4 linked regions of the Homo sapiens genome follow. The protein of the gene in region 3 interacts with the protein of the main gene of each other region in a biochemical or structural test. Each region holds a gene or a part of one and is shown on either strand. Other genes may lie near its edges. The genes, in order: CHEK2, RARA, PML and HIPK2.

Region 1 (7,000 bases), on a different chromosome or scaffold from region 3:
AGCGTAAAAAGGATGAGAATCTGACCCTTTCACTGTTACCAATTATTTTAGAGATCAGGTGATACTGCTCTTATCCAGATTCGAATGAGCATTTATTGAGCTCTGTTGTGTACAAGTGACCTTTGTGCTTAGAGAGAGAGGAGGGGTCTAAATGGACGAGTGGGCTGGGTATGGTGGCTCACACCTGTAATCCCAGCACTTTGGGAGGCCGAGGTGGGCAGATCACCTGAGGTCAGGAGTTTGAGACCAACCTGGCCAACATGGCAAAAAATACAAAAATTTAGCTGGGCATGGTGGTGGGTGTCTGTAATCCCAGCTACTTGGGAGGCTGAGACACGAGAATCACTTGAACCTGGGAGGCAGAAGTTGCAGTGAGCTGAGATCGCACCACTGCACTCCAGCCTGTGCAAAAGGGCCAGACATCATCTCAGAATAGGTGAATGAATGAATGAGTAATCACATGCGCTGCCTTTCCCTGTTTCTCAAGTCTGGCATCACTTTAGAATCTCTTGTTAGGATTTATGACACCCAGGCTTTACCTCAGAAGCTGAGAGTGGCACTCAGGTATAAGCATGTGTTTCCAAGCTCCCCAGGTATTCCATAGCGCAGCCAAGTTTGAGACACTGGGGTCTAAGAACCATGTAGAACTAATTAGAATCCTGAAGTGTCTGTGATAAAGATAATAAGCTTTTTGTAAGATTACAGAGGACATAGGTTAAGTTGGAAAGCCTGAGTGTTGAGATTCCTAGGCTCAGGAATTTTAATTTAAGCAAAATTAAATGTCCTAACTTGCAAAGACATGAATCTGTAAATTCCAGATTAATGGCAGGTGTGAATTGTACAATAGAAACTGATCTAGCCTACGTGTCTTCTTGGACTGGCAGACTATGTTAATCTTTTTATTTTATGGCAAGTTCAACATTATTCCCTTTTGTACTGAATTTTAGATTACTGATTTTGGGCACTCCAAGATTTTGGGAGAGACCTCTCTCATGAGAACCTTATGTGGAACCCCCACCTACTTGGCGCCTGAAGTTCTTGTTTCTGTTGGGACTGCTGGGTATAACCGTGCTGTGGACTGCTGGAGTTTAGGAGTTATTCTTTTTATCTGGTAAGAAATATTTTCATTGCTGCACAGACTGGTAGGAGGTGATTAGATGAAGTCACAAATGTGTCTTGCTCTGTTGTCCAGGCTGGCATGCAGTGGCTTGATCTTGGCTAACTGTAGCCTCTGCCTCCTGGGTCAAGTGATCCTCCCACCTCAGCCTCCCGAGTAGCTGGGACTACAGATGCACACCACCATGCCCAGCTAATTTTTCTATTTTTTGTAGTGATGGGGTTTTGCCATGTTGCCCAGGCTGGTCTCGAACTCCTGGGCTCAAGTGATCCTCCTGCCTCGGCCTCCCAAAGTGCTGGGATTACAAGCCTAAGGCATTGTGCCCAGCCTAGCTCACTTTTTGACCATTGATTTAAAGAAAAATCTGACTTTTCATTATGCTGAAAAAGAAATCTTTATATCTGAATGCCACTGAGAATGCCACTTGATTTCTTTTCCTTTCTCTCTCTACCAATATTAAGCCTTAGTGGGTATCCACCTTTCTCTGAGCATAGGACTCAAGTGTCACTGAAGGATCAGATCACCAGTGGAAAATACAACTTCATTCCTGAAGTCTGGGCAGAAGTCTCAGAGAAAGGTATGAATATGAAAGGGTTAAGAATTTGTGGTATGCTAAAATGTGTATGTGCTGTGGTGGGAGTTTCTTCCCAAATTCCATGGTGTTTTCTCCTGTCAATTCTGTTCTTATTTTCTATTGTTAGTTTCACACCATTTGAGAGGCACTGGAAATTATTAAGAGCATGCACTCAGGTCCTGGGTCTGCTACTACTTAGCTGTGTGGCCTTAGGCAAGTTATTTAACCTCCATCTCCAATTTCTTTCTGTGTAAAGGGACCCTCAATAAACCCTACCTTAAAAGGTTTTTGTGAGGGTTAAGTATCATGTACACAAGTGCCTGGTACCTATTTTAGTGAGCAAAATAAATGCACTTGTAACTTTTTAGTTACAAGGTTTCCTTTGAGTAAGCAAGCATGTAAAAACTAGATGTCATTAGTTACCTTGTATTTTATAATTTATCCTGGCAACTTTAGTTCCCTGAAGAGAAAGTAGAAAATTAAATGTCAAATAACATAACATAGGTGATTGTGTTAAATGTCAGAATATTTAAGGAATAATAATGTTGTAATATACAGGCCAGCGTGCATTTGTTGCTTGCTGGAGTAGCCAAGTTTTATTTCTGACAAGTCTGCAGTTCCAGGGAGCCTCTCCCTCGCTGAGTAACTGTCACCTATCCATCTGTAGATGTCAGAGAGAGTTTGCTGTGCATCCCAAGTATCTTAGAATTGGGTAGAAGTTTAGCTTTAATTAGTCCGACCTTGAGTCTAGCAACAAGAGAGGGAACAGGCAGTGAAGAGGTCGTGACTGACGTCCCAGCAGCAGGAGACAGGGAGTGTCATTATCATTCCTGGTCTTCTCACAGTACTCTGAATACAGAGAGTGAGGAAGATTAGGGGGCCCTGTCTGCTGACTCCGTGATGATCTCAGACCCTCTCTGCTCTTTCTGAATGGTGGCCTGTTAATTCTGGCATACTCTTACTGATAATATATTTATCCTTTTCACTGTGATTTGCCCAATTGTTGCTTTAGCTCTGGACCTTGTCAAGAAGTTGTTGGTAGTGGATCCAAAGGCACGTTTTACGACAGAAGAAGCCTTAAGACACCCGTGGCTTCAGGTGGGTGTGGGACAGTGCCTGCTAGCATAAAATACATGGGAAGCCCTGCTGCCTGAGAGACATGAGACAGAGGACAGAAACATGTTTACTTTGTTGAGTGTTTAATCTAATTGTTTTAGATGTATGGGGGGTATCTTGGAGGATGGGTTACAACCTGTTTTATTTTTTTTTTTGAGACAGGTTCTTGTTCTGTCACCCTGGCTGGAGTGCAGTGGCACGATCTCAGCTCACTGCAACCTCTGGCCCCCGGGTTCAAGTGATTCTCCTGCCTCAGCCTCCCAAGTAGCTGGGATTACAGGTGCATGCTGCCATGCCCAGCTACTTTTTGTATTTTTTGTAGAGATGGGGTTTCGCCGTGCTGGCCAGGCTACAACCTTTTTGATATTACTCATGGCTGTTGGATGTACACGCTCACTTTATGTCCTGTTCTGGTTCCACTTGGCTGCCCCGAGTCTCCTGTTTGGCCTGTGTTCTTTTGAGTGCTTGTTCTGGCTCTACCCCCAGCCATGTCCACTGCTCTTCATAGGTGGGGTGCATTCCAGCCATCTTCAACCTTAAATCAGGGAAGTGGGGGAGGGGGAGGAGGACAGCCTCCCTGGGGAGAATCCAGCTATTTCTCAAGCCCAAGTGACTGGGTATAAAGGGTCCCACTGCTTGTTCATTCAGGTGAGTAAATGTGTCCTTAATGAAGGCTGTCACCTGCACTTTTCATCTGTATTACCGCTGTGCTCCTGCTAGGGGTTGGGGCTGCCATTTTTAAATGCTGACCTCATCTGGAACTGCCAAGAGTTGGAAGTATGTTGTGGCTTTGCTGGGTTAATCTTTAGTTTTAGAATTAGCCACGGCATTGGGCAGGTTTTTCTGATAGATGTCTGGTCTTCTGTAATGAGCAGTTCCATTCAGCACAGACATGCCCCTTTCTATGAATTTTTTTTTGGTTTGTGTATTAGTCTGTTCTCACACTGCTATAAAGAACTGCCCAAGACTGGGTAATTTACAAAGAAAAGAGGTTTAACTGACTCACAGCTGCACATGGCTGGGGAGGCCTCAGGAAACTTATAATCATGGTGGAAGGGGAAGAAGGCATGTCTTAATGGCAGCAGGTGAGAGAGCTTGTGAAGGAAGTGAAGGGCGAAGATCCTCTTATGAAACTGTCAGATCTGGTGAGAACTCACTCACTATCACGAGAATAGCCTGGGGGAAACTGCCCCCATGAGCCAATCACCTCTCAACAGGTCCCTTTCTCAACACCTGGGGATTACAATTTGAGATGAGATTTGGGTAGGGACACAAAGCCAAACTGTATCAATCCGTTTTCTGTGGAGATGGGGGACAGAACTGGTAGCTTGAGCTAGAGGCTGTTACTTGAGCTAAATGCTGTTTCTCTGGGGATTACTGGTCCAGGAACTCCTTGGGCAGTCCAGCCTCCGACCCGTACTTCTGGGACTCTGGGAAGACTGTCCCTGTTCTCTGTTCCAATCCTCTACACCTAACAGTTTTGCTCAGGCCAGCTCAGGTTGAGAACAACAAAAACTTAAAACAAACAAACAAACAAACAAAAAAAGACATATATGTGTTTGGATGTTGCCCTGGAAACTACAGTCTCCCCAGAAGAAATCTGTCAGATGATTTAGCATTTAATAGACCACACAGATTTGAAACAGTGGGACCCTGGAGGAAAGGGGTTTGGAAACAAAGGGTGCCTTTGCATGTGGGGATTTTAATTTTGATGAAAAAGAGAAACATGTCTTTTGGCTCTTTTCATGTGTCCTAATAGGGAAACTCTTGGGTCTAAATGTAGAGGTACAGGAGCTGTGTTCATCTCTAACAAAAAATAGAGCTGGCCAGTTGAGCCTGGGAACAGGGTTTGCATCTGCCTGAAATTTATGAGCAAGCATAGCCTATCTTTCTTGTACTTTTTTGTGTCAAAGAAAACTTATTAACAACCAAGGAGAAGGTGAAGTTCAACTCTGTTGCAGGATCTCCCTGGAATACTCTTTTAGCCACCTTTTGTTTTTGCAGTGAAAGGAGGAATGAGCATTGAATGAAGACAAGGATGAAGACTGACCATCTAAAACATCTGTTAGTGATAGTTTGGGTTTTATTTTGGGAAAATTCAGTGTTTTTGAAAAAACCAAATGGTTTTGTGGGTCTGTCGCTGAACTGAGTGTTGGGAATGTGGATTCTGGTCTCTGTTTTGTCATTAACAGAGTGCCCAGTTTTGGGAGCATCCCTTACATCTACTCTCTGCCTCATATTTACTGCCTGAAATAGAGGATTTCTTCTGTTTACTTTCAAGGGATATTACAATTTAATTTTTATTTTATTTACTGTTGGAGACAAGGTCTTCTTCTGTTGCCTAAACTGGAGTGCACTGGTGCAATTATAGCTCACTGCAGCCTTGATCTCCTGGCCTTAAGGGATCCTCCCGCCTCAGCCTCACAAAGTGCTTGGATAATAGGCACGAGCCACTGTTCCTGGCTAATTTAATATTTTGGAATAATTGTAGACATCATGAAGAAAATCAATGTTTATTTATTTATTTCCTTTTTTGAGATGGAGTCTTGCTTTTGTCTACCAGGCTGGAGTGCAATGGTGTGATCTCAGCTCACTGCAACCTCTACCTCTGGGTTCAAGTGATTCTCCTGCATCAGCCTCCCAAGTGGCTGGGATTACAGGTGCCTGCCACCATCCCAGCTCATTTTTGTATTTTTAGTAGAGATGGGGTTTCACCATGTTGGTCAGACTGGTCTCGAACTCCTGACCTCAGGTTATCTACCCACCTTGGCCTCCCAAAGTGCTGGGATTCCAGGCATGAGCCACTGTGCCTGACCTGATTACTTGTTTTAAATACAGGCCTGATTAGGCTTGTGACCACTCTGTTTGGCTTCACTGAAGGGCTGCCAAGAGATGGACTTTTGAGAGTGACACTGCAAGATAATTGAGATCCTAAGTAAGGCCGTGAGAGGGTGCGGAGTAGAATCCAGATGAGCTTGCTGCTGTCAAATGGCAATGGGGAGCTACACTGAGAAACTCAAAACAGAGTGACCTCAAGTGATCTGCCCTGCCTTGGCCTCCCAAAGTGCTGGGATTACAGGCGTGAGCCACTGTGCCTGGTCCTTCTTTCCTTCTTTCTTTCTTCCTCCTTCCTTCCCCCTCCCCTCTCCTCCATTCCTTTCCCCTCCCTTCTTTCGTCCCCCCTCCCCTTTTTCCTTCCTTGCTTCTTTCCTTTCTTCCTTCCTCAGGGTCTTGCTCTCTCACCTAGGCTGGAGTGCAGTGGCATGATCACTGCACCATGACTTTCAGGCTCAAGTGATCCTCCTGCCCCAGCCTCCCAAGTAGCTGAGACTACAGGTGCATGCCACCATGTCTGGCTAATTTAAATTTTTTTTTTTTTTTTTTTGGAGACAGTGTTGTACTCTTTTGCCCAGGCTGGAGTGCAGTGGTGTGATCCTGGCTTACTGCAACCTCCGCCTCTTGAGTTCAAGCGATTCTCCTGCCTCAGCCTCCTGAGTAGCTGGGATTACAGGCGTGCACTACCATGCCCTGCTTATTTTGTATTTTTAGTAGAGAAGGGGTTTCACCATGTTAGCCAGGCTGATCTCAAACTTCCGACCTCAGGCGATTCGCCTGCCTTGGCCTCCCAAAGTGCTGGGATTACAGGCGTGAGCCTCCGTGCCTGGCCTAATTTTTAATTTTTTTTGTAGTGACGAAGTCCCACTATGTTGCCCAGGCTGGTCTCAAATTCCTGGCCTCAAGCAATTCTCCCACCTTGGCCTCCCAAAGTGCTGGGATTATAGGCATGAGCCACCATGCCCAACCTAGTGTTGTAAAATTTCCATATCCATCAAATTGCCAAATGGTGGAGGACTTTACTGTATCCTCTCCCTTTCCCCACTGTGGTATGCTTGGCTCAGTGGGAGGAGGGGCTGGAGTTGGGTGGGAAAGTACATGAGGCACTGGAATCAGATAACTCTGGGTCTGTATTCTGCACATGCCACCTGTGAGTGGCTGAGCTGGGCTTCTGGCCAGCACTCAAAGGCCACATTCCTAGTTATGGATGTTCCTTTCACCTTGCTGAAGATGGGGAGAGCTGCACCAGACCACCTCTCAGGGTTTCCTAATGCAAATCCTCGAACCCTGCAGAAGTGAGCATCCAGAGAGGTGGGAGCTACTCGCATACACACTGTCTGTGCCCTCCTCATCTCCTG
Region 2 (4,011 bases), on a different chromosome or scaffold from region 3:
ACGTAGAACCTTTCCATCATTGTAGAAAATTCTATCAGACAGCATTGCTCCGGCCACCTGCCAGGTGGTCCTCCGGGAGTGCTGGTGCGGAGTGCTGGTGCCGAGTGCTCAGAGTGGGTTCGGGTTCAGTCCCTGAACCCAAGCATCCTCTGCACCCAGATCCTGCGGATCTGCACGCGGTACACGCCCGAGCAGGACACCATGACCTTCTCGGACGGGCTGACCCTGAACCGGACCCAGATGCACAACGCTGGCTTCGGCCCCCTCACCGACCTGGTCTTTGCCTTCGCCAACCAGCTGCTGCCCCTGGAGATGGATGATGCGGAGACGGGGCTGCTCAGCGCCATCTGCCTCATCTGCGGAGGTGGGCAGGGGGCCTGGGTCTGGGGGCTGGGCTGGGACGGGGGTGCAGCCCTGGAGTCTCTTCCAGGGAGCTCTTTCAGGCCACCTCTGTTAGGTATCTCTAGAGGGCAGGGTCTGGTCTGCAACTACACAGCAAGGGGGCCATGTGGGGCCTGGACTCCTGTTCCCGATTTCTGGGCAACACCCCTTCTAGGGAGGTTAAGAGTGAGGGTTTGAGGGTCGGACCAACCAGGGTCACCTCCTGGCCGATGCATGACCCTGAGCAGGTTGCTGAACTTCTCTGGGCCTCCGTTTCTGTACAGTGGGGGCGGTAACGGTCTCTAGCTCATGAAGTTGATGGGAGGATTACGGTGGTAACAGATACTGTGCAGGTGCCCAGAGCGAGCTCCAGTGCTTGTTAGTTGCTATTTTATTGTTGTGATTTCTGCCATTTCATCTGGTTTCCAGAATAACAGGGGGGAGTGGGAGCCTGCCTGGGAACCCTCTCCCTGCTTGAGGATGGCACTGCCCATTTGGGGTCCCATCCCACTAACTGGGCTCAGGGAGGGTTTGGGGCACCCCCTCACCCTCAGCTCCCGTTGCTCCCTTTTAAGGGCCTCTGTACCCTGCGGCAGCAGAGACCCCATGCCCTGCCCTGTGTGGGGAGGCGCCTGCGAGCTGCCCTCCTCCATGGCCTGGGCAGGCACGCCCCCCGGTGGCCGAGGCTGGGGGTGCAGCTGTGTTCCCAGCTGCTCAGGGGGTGGTTCTGCTTCCTCAGACCGCCAGGACCTGGAGCAGCCGGACCGGGTGGACATGCTGCAGGAGCCGCTGCTGGAGGCGCTAAAGGTCTACGTGCGGAAGCGGAGGCCCAGCCGCCCCCACATGTTCCCCAAGATGCTAATGAAGATTACTGACCTGCGAAGCATCAGCGCCAAGGGTGAGGCTCACAGACCTGGAGGGGTACCGGCCCCCGACACCTGGCCCAGGCCCCCACATCCAAGCCAGCACCCCATGTCTTTGTGCCAGGACAATACGACACCTGTCCCCATCTGTGTCTAGGCTGAGGTCCCCTAGTGACTCCACTTTGCCGAGGTGGCCCGCCTGTGTCACCTTTGTGTGGTAGTTCAGATCGTGGCTCTGGAACCAGACACGTGGGTGTGTGTCCTTGTGTGGGTCACTCAACAGCTCCTAGCTACAGTTTCCCTTCCGAGGGCGGGGATAACATTCGTGTTTACAGAGGGGTCGGGATGATCCCTAGCACACAGCACAGGGGAAGGAAGGGCTTGGCGTCTAGCCCAGGCCGGCAGTCTGGCCCTGGAGCCGGAGTTCGGGACCACTTTGCCCCATTGCCACCAGCCTCTGGACCTGGGGGCTTAAGAGAGCTGGCTCGTGTCAAAGAACTGAATCCCAAGAAAGATGCTAATATCAGCAGTATTGATCTTCCCACCTCGAGCCAGGCTTGCTGGGGCTGGGGGTGGGAGGGCTGGCCCAGCGTGCTGACCTCTGCCCCCTCCTTTCCTGCAGGGGCTGAGCGGGTGATCACGCTGAAGATGGAGATCCCGGGCTCCATGCCGCCTCTCATCCAGGAAATGTTGGAGAACTCAGAGGGCCTGGACACTCTGAGCGGACAGCCGGGGGGTGGGGGGCGGGACGGGGGTGGCCTGGCCCCCCCGCCAGGCAGCTGTAGCCCCAGCCTCAGCCCCAGCTCCAACAGAAGCAGCCCGGCCACCCACTCCCCGTGACCGCCCACGCCACATGGACACAGCCCTCGCCCTCCGCCCCGGCTTTTCTCTGCCTTTCTACCGACCATGTGACCCCGCACCAGCCCTGCCCCCACCTGCCCTCCCGGGCAGTACTGGGGACCTTCCCTGGGGGACGGGGAGGGAGGAGGCAGCGACTCCTTGGACAGAGGCCTGGGCCCTCAGTGGACTGCCTGCTCCCACAGCCTGGGCTGACGTCAGAGGCCGAGGCCAGGAACTGAGTGAGGCCCCTGGTCCTGGGTCTCAGGATGGGTCCTGGGGGCCTCGTGTTCATCAAGACACCCCTCTGCCCAGCTCACCACATCTTCATCACCAGCAAACGCCAGGACTTGGCTCCCCCATCCTCAGAACTCACAAGCCATTGCTCCCCAGCTGGGGAACCTCAACCTCCCCCCTGCCTCGGTTGGTGACAGAGGGGGTGGGACAGGGGCGGGGGGTTCCCCCTGTACATACCCTGCCATACCAACCCCAGGTATTAATTCTCGCTGGTTTTGTTTTTATTTTAATTTTTTTGTTTTGATTTTTTTAATAAGAATTTTCATTTTAAGCACATTTATACTGAAGGAATTTGTGCTGTGTATTGGGGGGAGCTGGATCCAGAGCTGGAGGGGGTGGGTCCGGGGGAGGGAGTGGCTCGGAAGGGGCCCCCACTCTCCTTTCATGTCCCTGTGCCCCCCAGTTCTCCTCCTCAGCCTTTTCCTCCTCAGTTTTCTCTTTAAAACTGTGAAGTACTAACTTTCCAAGGCCTGCCTTCCCCTCCCTCCCACTGGAGAAGCCGCCAGCCCCTTTCTCCCTCTGCCTGACCACTGGGTGTGGACGGTGTGGGGCAGCCCTGAAAGGACAGGCTCCTGGCCTTGGCACTTGCCTGCACCCACCATGAGGCATGGAGCAGGGCAGAGCAAGGGCCCCGGGACAGAGTTTTCCCAGACCTGGCTCCTCGGCAGAGCTGCCTCCCGTCAGGGCCCACATCATCTAGGCTCCCCAGCCCCCACTGTGAAGGGGCTGGCCAGGGGCCCGAGCTGCCCCCACCCCCGGCCTCAGCCACCAGCACCCCCATAGGGCCCCCAGACACCACACACATGCGCGTGCGCACACACACAAACACACACACACTGGACAGTAGATGGGCCGACACACACTTGGCCCGAGTTCCTCCATTTCCCTGGCCTGCCCCCCACCCCCAACCTGTCCCACCCCCGTGCCCCCTCCTTACCCCGCAGGACGGGCCTACAGGGGGGTCTCCCCTCACCCCTGCACCCCCAGCTGGGGGAGCTGGCTCTGCCCCGACCTCCTTCACCAGGGGTTGGGGCCCCTTCCCCTGGAGCCCGTGGGTGCACCTGTTACTGTTGGGCTTTCCACTGAGATCTACTGGATAAAGAATAAAGTTCTATTTATTCTACACATGCCTCCAGCCTTGCTGCCTCCACCCCCTCCTCTTGGCGTCTGGTCTGGGGGCTTGGGATGGGTTTCGTCATGTGCTCTGGGCCTGTGATGGCCAGGAATGAGCACTGGGGCCAAGGGGCTGGCCAGGGCACCCTTCCAAGCTGCCTTCTGAGGCTTACCTTGTGCTGGGGTCTTTGGAGATGCTGAGAAGGAGAAAGTCCTGCCCCTTGGGAAGCCCTCAGTCTGGGGATCCACACTGCCCATGTCAAGGAGCCCCAGTCTGGGAGTGGGAGAGAAGAGGAGGAAAGCTGCCCCCACCTTCAGGGAACCCCCAGTCTGAGGGAGGAAGCCGGAGCCACCCCTAGACATTTCTGGTCCTTGGGAAGCCTTCACCATCACGGCAGGAATGACAGATGGCACAGGAGCTGGGGTCAGGGACTCATAGAAACCTAACAAGAGGCCTGGCGCAGTGGCTCATGCCTGTAATTCCAGCACTTTGGGAGGCTGAGGTGGGCGGATCACTTGA
Region 3 (7,047 bases):
TATATTCCAAGAGCAATACTCTATCTCAAAAAAAAAAAAAAAATTAAAAAGCAGAATACAATTTCCCTGAGATGAAGAGCTGAAGAAAGACTTGAGTTTTTCAGATCAACAATGGCGATAGAAGATTATTGAAAAAAGAAAAAATTATATAAAGATCTTTAGCAGGCTGGGCATGGGCTCAAGCCTGTAATCCCAGTGCTTTGGGCGGCTAAGGCAGGAGGATCACTTGAAGCCAGGAGTTTAGACCAGCCTGGGCAATATAGTGAGACCCTATCTCTACATAAAATTTTAAAAATTAGCCAGGCATGGTGGCAGGCACCTATAGTCCTAGCTACTCAGAGACTAAGGCTAGCAGACCTCTTGAGTCTAGGAGTTCGAGGTTACAGTGAGCTATGATCACACCACTGCACACCAGCCTGGGCAACAGAGCAAGAACTTATCTCTAAACAAACAAATAAACAAATGAAAACCATCCAACTATATTTATTAGCCAGGCACGGTGGCAGGTGCCTGTAGTCCTGGCTACTTGGGAGGTCAAGGTGGGAGGATTGCTTGAGCCCAGGAGTTTGAGGCTGCAGTGAACTCTGATTGCACCACTGCATTCCAACCTGGGTGACAGAGTGAGACCCCATCTCTAAAAAGTAAAATAAATAAAAATAAATAAAGATCCTTAACAAACAAAAACAGATTACTCACAGAGAAAAAATAGACCATTAGTGGACTTCTCATCTACAACACCAGAGACTAGAAATTTATGAAGCAAGGTTTATATATTCTGAGGTGAAAGCACTGTGATTATGACCTCAGAATTTTACACCTAGCTCAACTTTCCCTCACATGTGACAGCAAAAGAAGGACATACAAGTAAAGACACTTAAGGTCTCAGAAAGTAAACTCTGGAATAATTTTTTTAATTACTTGATGGAGTATTCCTGCCAAATGGAAAATTAATCACCTTAAATAATTCAAGAAAGGAGAAGAAAAGCTATAGGAAAACTTATCATGAGCAATGAAACCAATTAAAGTATAAGGTATGGCTAACAAGTGCGTTGTAATATGACCATGAAGCTTAATACCTGTTCAGAAAGGATGTTTACAAAAGAAAAAAAAATTAACAATTTGGTAGTAATCTGGAACTAAAAGTTCACATTATTTCAACTAAATCTGAAAGTGAGAAGGAAGAGGGAAGAAGAAAAACTATAAAAGTGTGCTAAATGTTTTATTTTCTCTGGAAGAATAGTTATATTCTACTCTTTGTGGTGATAGATGAGATAGGTTCTAGAGTGTGCATGTATGTGTGTGTTGGTGTGTGTATACACTTTTTTTTTCTGAGATGGAGTTTCACTCTTGTTGCCCAGGCTGGAGTGCAGTGGCACAATCTCAGCTCACTGCAACCTCCGCCTTCCAGTTTCAAGCAATTCTCCTACCTCAGCCTCCCGAGTAGCTGGGATTACAGGCGCCCGCCACCACGCCCGGCTAATTTTTGTATTTTTAATAGAGACGAGGTTTCACCATGTTGGTGAGGCTGGTATTGAACTCCTGACCTCATGATCCGCCTGCCTCAGCCTCCCAAAGTGCTGGGATTACAAGCGTGAGCCACTGCGCCTGGCCCACTTTTTTTCTTTTTTTAAGACAGAGTCTCATTGTGTCACCCAGGCTGGAGTGCAGTGGCGTGATCATGGCTCACTGCATCCTTGAACGGACAGGCTCAGGTGATCCTCTCTGAGGAATACCTCCACCTCCCGAATAGCTGGGACGAGAGGCATGTGCCACCATGTCCAGCTAATTTTGTATTTTTTTGTAGAGACGGGGTTTCACCATATTGCCCAGGCTGGCCTCAAACTCCTGGGCTCAAAATATCCACCGGCCTTGGCCTCCCAAAGTGTTGGGATTACAGGTGGAAGCCACCACATCTGGCCTATATATATGTTTTGATGGGGAAGTTACCACTCTGTAATTATCATTTAGAGAACTGGTGAAACAGAATGGAAGGAAAGGTAGAAAGTTTCGGCCAGACATGTTGGCTCACGCCTGTAATCCCAGCACTTTGGGAGGCTGAGGCGGGTGGATCACAAGGTCAGGAGATCAAGACCATCCTGGCCAACATAATGAAACCCCTTCTCTACTAAAAATACAAAAAAAAAAAAAAAACTTAGCCGGGCATGGTGGCACACGCCTGTAATCCCAGCTACTCAGGAGGCTGAGGCAGGAGAAACACTTGAACCCGGGAGGAGGAGGTTGCAGTGAGCCGAGATCATGCCACTGCACTCCAACCTGGATGACAGAGCAAGACTCCATCAAAAAAAAAAAAAAAAAAAGAAAAGAAAGAAAGGTAGAAAGTTTCAATAGCGTGGAGATACACACACACACACAAGCACTAGAACTTACATATATATGGATATATACATATAGATATATGCATATATACACATATATATTATATACATATATTTGTGTATGTATATATATGTGTGTACAACAAATACAACTTTTCAACTCTAAGGATTATTGCTAGGAATATGTGAGTCCAAGGAATATCCTAGGCCGCTAAGAAAATCTCAATATAGTCTTAGATGTAGAACTCATACAAACTGTATAAACTGGCCATAGTGCAGAAATTAACAAGTATGAAATCGCACCATCACATTCCAGCCTGGGTGACAGAACAAGAAACCAAACATCAAAACCACTTGAAAATTTTAGAAAACACTATTCTCTAAAACTTTTCAAGAGAAAAAAATTTCTTTTTTTTTTTTTTCGAGTCAGGGTCCGGTTCTGATGCTCTGGTTGGAGTGAAGTGGCACCATCACAGCTCACTGCAGGCTCAAATTCTTAGGTTCAAGCAACCCTCCTGCCTCAACCTCCCAAATAACTGGGACTACAAGCATGTACCACCGACCATGCCTGGCTAATTTTTTTTATTTTTTGTAAAGATGAGGTCTTGCTATGTTGCCCAGGCTGATCTCGAACTCTTGACCTTAAGCAAGAGAACCTTTTTAAGAAAAGACTGAAATGAAATTTGAGAAATGATTGACTATGAGAACACTAATGAAGTTATCAAAGTTATGGCATACAGCCAAAACCATATACAGAGAACTTATGCCTTAAAAGAGTTATTATTAGGCAGGGCATTGTAGCTCACGCCTGTAATCCCAGAACTTTGGGAGACTGAGGCGGGTGGATCACTTGAGGCCAGGAGTTCGAGACCAGCCTGGTCAACATGGGGAAACCCCGTCTCTACTAAAAATAAAAAAAATTAGCCAGGCATGGTGGTGGGCACCTGTAGTCTCAGCTACTGGGGAGGCTGAGGCAGGAGAATCACTTGAACCCAGGAGGCACAGGTTGCAGTGAGCCAAGATCTACCACTGCACTCCAGCCTGGGTGACAGAGGGAGATTCTCAAAAAAAAAAAAGTTATTATTATTAAACAATAAAGATTGCAAATAAATGAATTATAAGTTCAAGAAGCTAGAAAATGAATAATGACAAAAGTTAGAAGGAAGAAAATGACAAAAATAAAATGATCAAACAGAAAGAAGGAAAACATTAAAATCAGTAAGCAATCTAAGGAAAGACTAAAAGTACAGTACTTTGAAAAGACTGCTAAACCACAAATATACAACATCAGAAATAAAAAAAGGGGGTATAGTTACAGGCATATAGGAGATTTTTAAATAATGAAAGATAACTCAGGATGAACTGGAAAATCTTCCAAAAATCTGACACAAGAGCCAAAACAGATTAATGCCATGGCAAAAATGGGAAAAGTTCCCAAAAATCTACTATAAAAAAGGCACCAGTTCCAAGATGGTTTTTCAAAAAACTTTTATAAGCCTAAATTTCTTATATTCTTCAAATTGTTCTAGAGCAGAGAAATTATAATAGAATTTTAACATTCACTGAGTATTTAATATGTGCCAGGCACTACGCTAAACAATTTATATGTACAGTTGGCCCTCAGTATCTGCAGGTTACGCACCCGTGGATTCAACAAATCTTGGATCAAAAATATTCAGGCGAAAAAAAATCAATTAAAAAAGTACCACAATAAAAAAATATACAAATTCAAAAATATAGTAAAACAACTCTTTACATAGCATTTACATTGTATTAGGCATTATAAGTAATCTAGAGATGACTTAAAGTATACAGGAGGGGATGGGTACAGTGGCTCACACCTGTAATCCCAGCACTTTGAGAGGCCTAGGGAGGGTTGCTGCCTGAGCCCAAGAGTTCTCAAGACCAGTCTGGGCAATGTCGTGAAACCCTGTCTCTACAAAAAATTTAAAAATTAGCTGAGTGTGGTGGTGCACACCTGCAGTCCTGTATAATCTGGTGGCTGAGGTGGGAGGATTGTTTGAACCCAAGAGATTGAGGCTGCAGTGAGCCACGAGTGCAGCACTGCACTCCAGCCTGGGCGACAGAGCAAGACCCCGTCTCAAAAAATAAAAATAAAATAAAAAATAAAGTATACAGGAGGATGTGTAGAGGTTATATACAAATACTATGCCATTTTATATCAGAGACTTGAGCATCTATGAATTTGAAACAGACTCCCATGGATCCCGTGGGATGGCTGCATTATCACGTTCAAAACATGAAAGCTTACAAATTCATTAAGAAATTAGTATAAGGCTGGGCATGGTGGCTCATGCCTGTAATCCCAGAACTTTGGGAGGCCGAGGCAGGTGGATCACCTGAGGTCAGGAGACCAGCCTGACCATTATAGTGAAACCCTGTCTCTACTAAAAATGCCAAAAAATTAGCCAGGCATGATGATGTGCACCTGTAATCGCAGCTACTTGGGAGGCTGAGGCAGGAAAATGGCGTGAACCCGGGAGGTGGAGGTTGCAGTGAGCCGAGATCGCGCCACTGCACTCCAGCCTGGGTGACACAGCGAGACTCCATCTCAAAAAAAAAAAAAAAAAATTAAAAAAAATTTTTTAAATCCAAAAGATAGAACCAGAGATAAAGCCAATTTCTCCTAATTTATTGCAATTTCAATCAAAATCCAATAAATATGTAAGTTTTAAAACTGCATAAATTGTAAGAGCAAAAGAAATGCATACATTTTTTTCTTTCGAGGAATTTGTTCCTGAATTCTTTAATTAGTCCCTTAATTCCTCAACGGAAACAACAACAACAACAGGCAAAGGACCTAAACAGGCCACTCGCAAATGCAGAAACACAATGGCCAATAAACAAGTGGAAAGCCACTCAACCTTTACAATAAGCTAAGAAACGTGGTGATACCAGCTGTTGAGGAGTCGGAGGGGAAAGCTTATTCTGATAGTGTGGGAAGTTTATCCTAAAGCAGGAAACAAATCACAGTCAGTTTAGCAGATATGTAGTTCAGCAAATATGTGGTTTAGCCATATATAGTTCTGAGTTGTCAAAAACCAGCGAAAAATGCTTTCATTTTGCAAGTGGATCTCTAAGAACCAAGAAGCGCCTTCTATGAACAATCTATTGCTAATGGTGAAAAGTTCACATAGTTATGCTACCTTTTTGGCTAAAAGAGGGAAAATAGGACCTGATAAGATTGCTCCTACCTGCATATATATTCGTAAAGAAACTCTCAGAAGAAACATTCAAAACTAGTAACAATGGCTACCTGTGGATGGGAAGAGGGAGAAGTGGTGGGAATTAGGCAGTTGGGCATGGACAGAAGATTGCACTCTCTCTCTCCTCTTTACAAATTTTGTTCGTGAACTGTACGAATGTATTACCTATTAAAAAACTGAGTTAAAATCTGTTTAATAAAAATAATTACAACTGGATGTGATTTTTTTTCCCCATACAGACATTCTCAGATAGCGCTGCCTGGTGTTAATGGTTTCAACTTTTCAGACAGAAACTAACTACTTGTCTCTGATCCTAGAATCCAGCCTTACTGAGATTCCGTGTCAGTGCTCTCGGAAAATTCCACTAAATTCTAAAGGGCAGTTTGGTAACATGTATCAAATGTAGAATTCCCGTCCCCCTACACCCAGCAGTGGCACTTCTAAAAATTTATCCTAAAGAAGTTACTGGATAAAGATGCAAAGATGATTCTGCAGCATTATTTATTACAGGAGGAAACTGGAAACTTACTATCCACCTGCGTGGGGACTGGCAGCATAAATTGTGGTCATCAACACGGACACTGCATATCTGCAGACCACATTTAGAGTTGCAAGGCCCCAGAAGCTCCTTGTCCTCAGCTGTGTGACTCTTTGGATCTTTGCTCCTCTCGCCCTCTACCTGGTACTTGGATGCACCACCCCACCCTGTGCCGGCCTACTCACCTGGTCAGCGTAGGGGTGCGGTGGTTGGGGTTGGAGCAGAAGATGTTGTTGGTCTTGCGGGTGCCGTCCAGGAACTCACGCACCGACTGGTTGCGCAGCTCTGCTAGGGGCCGGGCCTCGTGCTTGAGGAACCACTGGTGTGCCTCGAAGCACTTGGCGCAGAGGAGCTGCTCGCACTCAAAGCACCAGAAGTCGGCCGACTCTTTGCAGCGGGTGCACACAGCCTGCGCATCCACAATCTGCCGGTACACCGACAGGCGCCGCTGCAGACTCTCGAAAAAGACGTTATCCAGGGCGGGTGTGTCTGCACCTAGGGGCCAGGGCGCCTGGCAGATGGGGCACTGCATGCCCGACGCCTCCAGGCATCCTGAGCACAGCGTGTGCAGACAAGGCAGCAGCTTCGGGCACTTGGCTTCCGCCTGGCATTGCTGGCAGCGCAGAAACTGGAACTCCTCCTCCGAAGCGGGGGCTCGCTGGGGGACCAGAGAGGCAGGTGAGGCCTGGAGAAGTCCCAAAAGCCCCCACCTACCGGCCAACCACCCTTACAGCTGGACCCTGGAGTAGGACCTCATATTCCATTCCAGCCAGTCATTGGATGATGCAAAACCCTGGCTTATCAGCACCCCAATACCCCCATTTATTCAGGCCCTCCAGCTCTCACTGCACCATTTATTGAGCATCTACTTCTCATCACCCACAGTAATAGGCTCTGAGATATAAGAGGTGTAGGATACATTCTGCCTTCAAGGAACTCAGTTTGG
Region 4 (6,996 bases), on a different chromosome or scaffold from region 3:
TTAAGAAACCTGTATTTCCCTCCAAACTAGTTTCACCAAAGTCACTAATGCAACTCTTGTTGCTAAATCCAATTGATGCCTTTCTGCCTTTTTTTTTTTTTTTTTTTTTTTGAGATGGAATTTAGCTCTTGTTGCCTAGGCTAGAGTGCAATGGCACTAGAACTCGGCTCACTGCAACCTCTGCCTCCTGGGTTCAAGCGATTATCCTATCTCAGCCTCCCAAGTAGCTGGGATTACAGGTGCCCACCGCCACGTCTGGCTAATTTTTTTTGTGTTTTTAGTAGAGATGGAGTTTCATCATGTTGGCCAGGCTGGTCTCAAACTCTTGACCTCAGGTGATCTGCCTGCCTCAGCCTCCCAAAGTGCTGGGATTACAGGCGTGAGCCACAGCACCCAGCTGCTTTTCTGCTTTCATCTGACGTGGGCCTCTCAATAGCATGCAGCACTGTTGACCTTGCTGGGATGTTGAGGAATCCCCCGTCCTGGCTGTCCTCCAACTTCTCTGCCCTCTTGTCCATGGGGAGCTCTTTTTCCTCTTCCCATGTCTCAAATACTGGTACTCCCCAGGTTCTGTCACAGATCCTCTCTCCTCCCAGCTCCCATGCTCTCCTTCAGTGACATTTCACTGTTAGGTTTATACCTTGCTGCCACTTGACTGCAGTCACCGGAAGGAAAGGAGACAATTAGTATACTCAGTCTGCCAATTCATGAAGGAAAATCTAAGCTCATTTCAAGAATATTTTTCCGTTATATCATACGAACTTCGCTAGCTCAATTGAATGCATGTTTTGCATCTCATGGATACAGCTTCAGTCATGGTGGTCTGAAGAGAAGGTGGACCTCTGTCTGTATGGCTCCATCTTGTTCCCCTTCCATGGGACTCTATTTCCTTGCCCAAGATTGTTCCCTTCTTATGGGGAGGAGACTACCTGTAAAATGTTTTCGGTTGACACAAGTGATATTCATTTTAAGACTGCCTAGAATCACTCACTGCTAGACAGCAGCTGGGATGGACTTAGAGGCAGTTACTGAACACTGGTCAGTGCTGAATTCAGGGGCAGTCCTATAAAGCAGGGCCTTGCTCCAAGACGCTGCCAATCCAGTTATGAACACAGGGTACCTACACAGAAGACAAGAGTCAGCCATCTAGGGTGCGGGTATGCTGTGGACAACAGAGTGTGAGCAACAGGCAGGAAATGTTCTGTGAGCCTAAGGAAAGATGAGACAAAAGTCAGTGGGGCTGGTCAGAGGGAGGAGTTAGAATAATAATAACTTTTATTGAACCCCTACTATGTGTCTGCCCTCTATATAAAACTCTCTCTCTAATCTAACCCAGCCTCAGAGGCTGTGATGAGGACTATATGAAATGCCTTTTATCGAGTTTGTAGTGTTGTGCTGGACACAAGGGAGCATGCAACAAATTGCAGCTATCATCCATTCAACAAATATGTGTGCAGTACTCACCATGCGTTAGGCAATGCAGTTATTGGACATACAATCCAAAACAAGAAAAACATGGTTTCTGTCCTTACTGAGCTTACAGTCTAGAGACACCTTGTCCAAAATGGTAGCCACTAACCACCCATGGTTATTAAAATTAAAAATTCAGTTCCTCAGTCATACTAGCCACATTTCATGTGCTCCACAGACATAAGTAGCTACACTGCCATTATGGCAGCAAGTTCTAATGGCCAGCACTAGAAAGGGGCAGAGAGACATGCATGTAGGGTATGTATTAACAGGGAGTTACATACCTGTGTGGTGAAGGCTATGATAGAGATTTACAGATGCAAAAGGAGAACATTACTATTGTTCTCCTTCTCATAATCAAAATACAGACACTGAGGCTCAGAGAGGTTAAGCATTTTGACCAAGATCACATAGTTAAGTGGAAGAGCTAGGATTTGAACCTAGGTCTGACTTACTCCCACGCTATCTCGGGCTGTTTTGTGGAGGAGGTGAGCCAGGCACAGGTAGAATCTGCTTAAAGAGAGAAGATGGAGAAGGTACCCCTCTGGGAAAGTGGGTGGGAAAGTGACCGCTTGGGCAAAGGCACAGTGACAGAGATGGGTGAAGCTGGCACTGGGCTACAAGTAAACCAGTTTGGCTAGAGAAGCAGTGACTTGCTGAACTCATGTCCTTAGAAAGCTAAGTCAGGACTCGCCTGCCTTGATGAAAAGCCAAGGCACTCAGCCCCACCTGCAGAGGTTGAGTCCTTAGAGGATGTTAGCCAGGAGCGTGGCATGGCCAGAACCACGTATTATGAAGATGGCAATATTTAGGATGACCTGGGCCAAGACTAAAGTTAAAGATTGCAGGGAGGATAGAAGGGAAGGAGATAAATGACCGGTGTGGAGCAAAAAACACTAGAGTGGGAGCCACGAGACCTATTCCTAAGCTTCAATACTGTGTGACATTGGGCAACAGATTTTACTTCTCTGGACTCCATTTCTTCAACTCTAAAAGGGCAGGGCTGGCCCAGATGACCTCTGAGGTCCTTTTAGCAACAGTAGTCTAGGATTCTGCAAACGTGAATGGCATTAGGTTAAGAGAAGGGATAGGAAGTGTAGCATTGATTATGGGGGCAAGGAAGACCGCAGAGTACAAGATCACACAGAGGAAGGTGTCGTGATGTACCACTAAAAAAGTGTGAAAGAGCTTGCCTTTTTTGGGAAGGACTGAAGGATGGGAACGGAGGATGGAGACCGGAAAGGATAAGAAGTAGTGAGAAAATCACGAGGTTGTTTTTAAGAAAGTTATACAGTGTTAGAGATCATTATTTTACACAGATAGCTTTTCAACTTTTTTAAACCCACGATTCACAGACGGAAATAAAATTGACATCATGGTCCAGTACACTTGTCCAGTACCTATAATCGAAACAAAAGGTTTATGAAACAATAGTTGCCCTTACTAAGGGCAATGGACTCTAATATTTTCTATTGGATTCCATTTCGTTCTTTTTGAAAGCTGGTTGCCTTCCGCTGCATTTATTTTATGATCTATTACTGTGTCACGACCCACAGTTTTAAAAACAGTGCCTAAGAGGAGACTCAACAAGTCTTCCTAAGTTGGAGGGGATGGCAGGGCATCCTATCCAAGCATCCGGGAGGCAGCTGGAGAAGCAAACCTGGAGAGGCTCCCGGCTGGGGAGAGTCTGGAGAGTGTTTAGCGGAAGCCCTGATAGGAGAGAGCGCTGAGAAAAGCGAGGACCCAGAGAGTTGTGAGCTCCCATTCAAGTGATGGAGTGGCGGCCCTCGGGACAGTGTAGACGCGAGGAGGAGAAGATCAGGGTGGCGTGGAAGCCAGACTCCGGCAGGAACCCAGCGACCACCCCGGGGGCTGCATTTCCGCGGCGTGCACGGCAGGGCTTCGGTGCCTCTGACCTCGTGTGGCTTTCCGAAGCTCCTCCACTCACCCGCCCTCCTCCGGAGCACGGCGCGCGCCCACTCCTTCATTCATTCATTCCACTCCTACCTCCGCGAGCGCCAACCGGCTGTGAGATGGGCGAGCCACTTTGCCAGCGTGGGGCTCTCTTTCGGGTCGGTTCCCTCCCCGCCAGCACACGCGCGAACCCTCGCACCTGGGCACACACGCGCGCGCGTGCACACACACACACAAAGTTCTGGGGGCCCCTCTGCAGACCGGCTCGGCTGCGCTGGGCTCGGAGCCGTGCGCCCGCCGGGTCCAGGCCGGCCCTCTCACCCACTACCCGGGGCCCGCCCTGCGCCCAGTCCCCCCGCGCTGCGCGGCAGCCCCTCCCAGCGCGGTCCCCTCGGGCCGCCGGCGCGGCTCTGCCCTTCGGTTCGGCCTTCCCCGCCTCGCATCCGTGCCATCGGCGCTCGATTGCGCGCGGACTCCCTGTGGCTCTCCCGGCCCCGCGCCCCGCCCCCGCCCCCGCCCGCCGCCCCCCTCCGCCAGCAACTTTTGCGGAGCCCCCGCGCCCAGCCATGCTGAGCTGAGCCCCGCCGGCCCTGGCCGCGCGCTGCCCCCGGCTCCCGCCCCTCCGCGGATCCGCTCGGGGGCCGCGGCCGCTCGGCGCCTCGGCCTCGGCCGCTCCGCCCGCCCGGCCGCCCCGAGCCCCGAGCCCCGAGCCCCCCGCGCCGGGCCCGGGCGGCAGCGGCGGCGGCGGCGGCGGCGGCGCGCCCGGCCCCCTCCCCCGGCGCCGGCCACGGGAGGCGGTGATGCGGGCGCGGGCGGCCTCGGCTGCGCCGAGAGCGGAGACACAGGCTCAAGATGGCAGATTCCGACTGAGGCTGGGGGGGCCGAGCTCGCGCGCCGCTTTCCCGTCCCCGTTGCCATGAACCGCGGACACCCCGGCCCCGATGGCCCCCGTGTACGAAGGTAAGGGGCGCCCGGCCCCGCCGACCCCGCGCCCGCCGCCCTCCGCGGCCCCCGCAGCTTTGTTCTGCCCGCGGCCCCGCGCCCGCAGCCCCCGGCGCCTGCCCCAGCCCCCACCCGGGGCCCGAGGGGGCCGCGACCCCCTCCCTCGCCCGGAAGATGACCGGGACCCGGCGCCGGCAGGGTCTTGCTTCCAGGGCGGGGAGAGGGGCCGGGGGCGCAGGAGGGGAGGGGGCGTGTGCGAGGGTGGGCGGCTGCCCGGGGAGGGCAGGGACGCCGGGGAAGGCGGACCGGTGACTGTGCTTTTTATTTATTTGCGATAAATGAAGGTGATGCGGCTTAGCTTCCACCGCCCCCCCACATTACCTTTCGGAGCACCTCCTTTCCACTTCGCTCTCCGCCCCGCGCCCCTTCCCATTTCTTTCCGCGCCCACCCCACGCTCCTTTATTCTCCGCGAGCCTCCGATTTTGGGGGGGCTGTGGAATCGGAATGCACGGGGCTAGGTGGGGAGAGAGGAGAGAGATGAAAAGTCCATGTCAGAGCCAGGCAGAACAATGAAATAGGCGAAAATCTCCCCTCATTAGCGTGTGGAAGGGGACGTGGACTTTGGGTTTTCCAGCCGGGGGAGCGGCGGAGACGTTTTTCTGGCTCGGTCTGGGTCGATCTGTGTTGTGCACCTTCACCTGGCATCGGGGTATTTTTCCCCATTTGACTGCCTTTAGCAAGAAAGAAAAGAACGCAAGGCAGAAAAGCAGTAGGTCTGCCTCGCACACTGTCTTTCGTTTCTCTTCAGTCCGTTCTGTCAGCTTCCAGCCAGAAAGCAACCCAGAATCAACTAAGTTTTTACACTTCGATGTGTTTTTGTGTGCTTGTAGTAGGAGAAATTTTAAACCCAAGTGTGTCTGATTTTTCAGTCGTTTCATCGTGTAAATGTTTGTCTCATGAAATCATTGAAATCGCAGCCTTCACATACTTTTAGCGTGGGTCCCCCGGCTTTCTTTCGGTTTTGTTCAGATATTCTGTGGATGAAATCGCAAATGAGAGGGGACAGGGTTTGTGTGGCACAGAGGAGGGCACGAGGGGGGAATGTAATCCTCCTGTAAATCCGGAGAACAGTTGTGGCCAGTGAGACAGGGAAGGCATTAATAGTTTTATCTCTGTTATAAGAGGCTGATTAAAAAAAAAAAAACTTAAAAGAAAATCTGTTATTAGTTTCAGGGCTCCAAATGAATTAGGTTTCTGGCCGGAATAAAGTTACCAGTCAGGCCCTGGATAACGAGGCTGTAAATAACCTATAGACTGTAAATATTTTTTTTTCAGACTCTCTTAGAAACAAAGGGGCTGTTTAGAAGGCAACAGAGAGATGTTATTCCAGGGGCTTTCCTCTTTGATTCTGAAGAACACAAGGTCCATTTAACCATTCGACAAAACAAAACGAAATTTCTGATCACTCCACCACGCAGAATAGAACATGCCGGTGGACATGTGAACATGCGGGAGAACCCATGTCGGGCGTTCATTGTTCATCTGCGTCTACAGGAGGGGGCTACAGTCAATGCTCCCACTGTCTAGAGTGTTAAAATGAAACAATTTTCTCTTTATTAAGTACCTCCTTGAGACTCCCTCTGCTGGACACTCCCGGTGAGTTGAGAGAAGGAACTTGGCATTGAATTCAGAACTATAGTAAACGGCTGGTTTCCCTGTTACTAGGGACCGGGTATGTGAGTTGGGGTGTATTTTGTCAACTTTGTGGAAAGCCATCTTGGGAACTGCACTGTTCTCCTCCTGCTCCTTTCATTTTAAATCCATATGGAAGGTAGGCCATGCCCCCGAGGCTGAGACTTGGCTCTCCCCGTTCCTGCTACATTGTTCTTCCAGTTCCTTACGCCAGATAAAGAACTGCAGGTGTGTAGGGTGTTACGGTTTAAGAATAATCATGGATCTCAAAAGTCTCATGAACTGTTTTTATTTGCCAGCCTTCCTTCCCTGTCTCAGGTGACCTCCGCGGTGGCCTCTTTCAGCCCTCAGTTTCCCTCCATCTTGTCCGTGTGCCCTCTTCATTGTTCCTGCGCTGTGCACCCTTTTATTCCGGATGTTTATCTGTGCACCTTTATAATTATTTTTCTAATCTTCCTCCCCATCCCACCTCAACTGGCCCACATCAGTCTGCCAAAAGCCCAGATCTGGGTGTTTTTGAAAGAGATTGTTGGACATGCTCTAAAACAGACAGGTGACTTCTAGAATCAAGGATTAGGTTGCTAGGACCCGCATTCACTCACTGTGATGAGTGTGCCAAGACTCTGATGACCTCCTTTCTCCTGCCGTGGTGACATCCTCTGGGTTCAGGAAACCTGATTTTTCCCCTGTCTCAATCAGAGCACATGGACTCCCTGTGTGCATGCTAAACGAGCAGAGCTTTTCCTGTAGATTTCTATAAGAAGAGGGATTCCTTGTGGGTTTTGAGCTCCTAAAGAGTGTGCATGATTCTTCTCAGGAAAAGTATAACGACACGAGAGGGAATTGTTTCAATGGGGTGCTGCTGCACCAAGTTGGAATACCAGGTGAAGGCCCAGATACATTAATGGAGCGTTCTGAACCGCCAGAGATTTAGACAGAAATGCTGTTTTTGAAACAAGGGGTATTTGATAATACCA

Evidence for each region.
Region 1: the proteins of PML (region 3) and CHEK2 form a complex in vitro, tested with the Homo sapiens proteins (2 studies listed by BioGRID, with this or other methods).
Region 2: the proteins of PML (region 3) and RARA form a complex in vitro, tested with the Homo sapiens proteins (one study listed by BioGRID).
Region 4: of the proteins of PML (region 3) and HIPK2, one has a biochemical effect on the other in vitro, tested with the Homo sapiens proteins (2 studies listed by BioGRID).

Annotation. Positions count from the first base shown.
Region 1 is NC_000022.11:28,689,821-28,696,820, reverse strand, and holds part of CHEK2 (serine/threonine-protein kinase Chk2), read left to right. Parts: intron 1-947; coding exon 948-1,111; intron 1,112-1,578; coding exon 1,579-1,694; intron 1,695-2,703; coding exon 2,704-2,789; intron 2,790-7,000. UniProt on the Homo sapiens protein: Serine/threonine-protein kinase which is required for checkpoint-mediated cell cycle arrest, activation of DNA repair and apoptosis in response to the presence of DNA double-strand breaks.
Region 2 is NC_000017.11:40,354,143-40,358,153, forward strand, and holds the end of RARA (retinoic acid receptor alpha), read left to right. Parts: intron 1-159; coding exon 160-364; intron 365-1,120; coding exon 1,121-1,279; intron 1,280-1,866; coding exon 1,867-2,084; 3' UTR 2,085-3,501; downstream 3,502-4,011. UniProt on the Homo sapiens protein: Receptor for retinoic acid. Retinoic acid receptors bind as heterodimers to their target response elements in response to their ligands, all-trans or 9-cis retinoic acid, and regulate gene expression in various biological processes.
Region 3 is NC_000015.10:73,997,716-74,004,762, reverse strand, and holds part of PML (protein PML), read right to left. Parts: intron 6,760-7,047; coding exon 6,287-6,759; intron 1-6,286.
Region 4 is NC_000007.14:139,774,953-139,781,948, reverse strand, and holds the start of HIPK2 (homeodomain-interacting protein kinase 2), read left to right. Parts: upstream 1-3,950; 5' UTR 3,951-4,325; coding exon 4,326-4,344; intron 4,345-5,801; exon of another isoform or gene 5,802-6,996.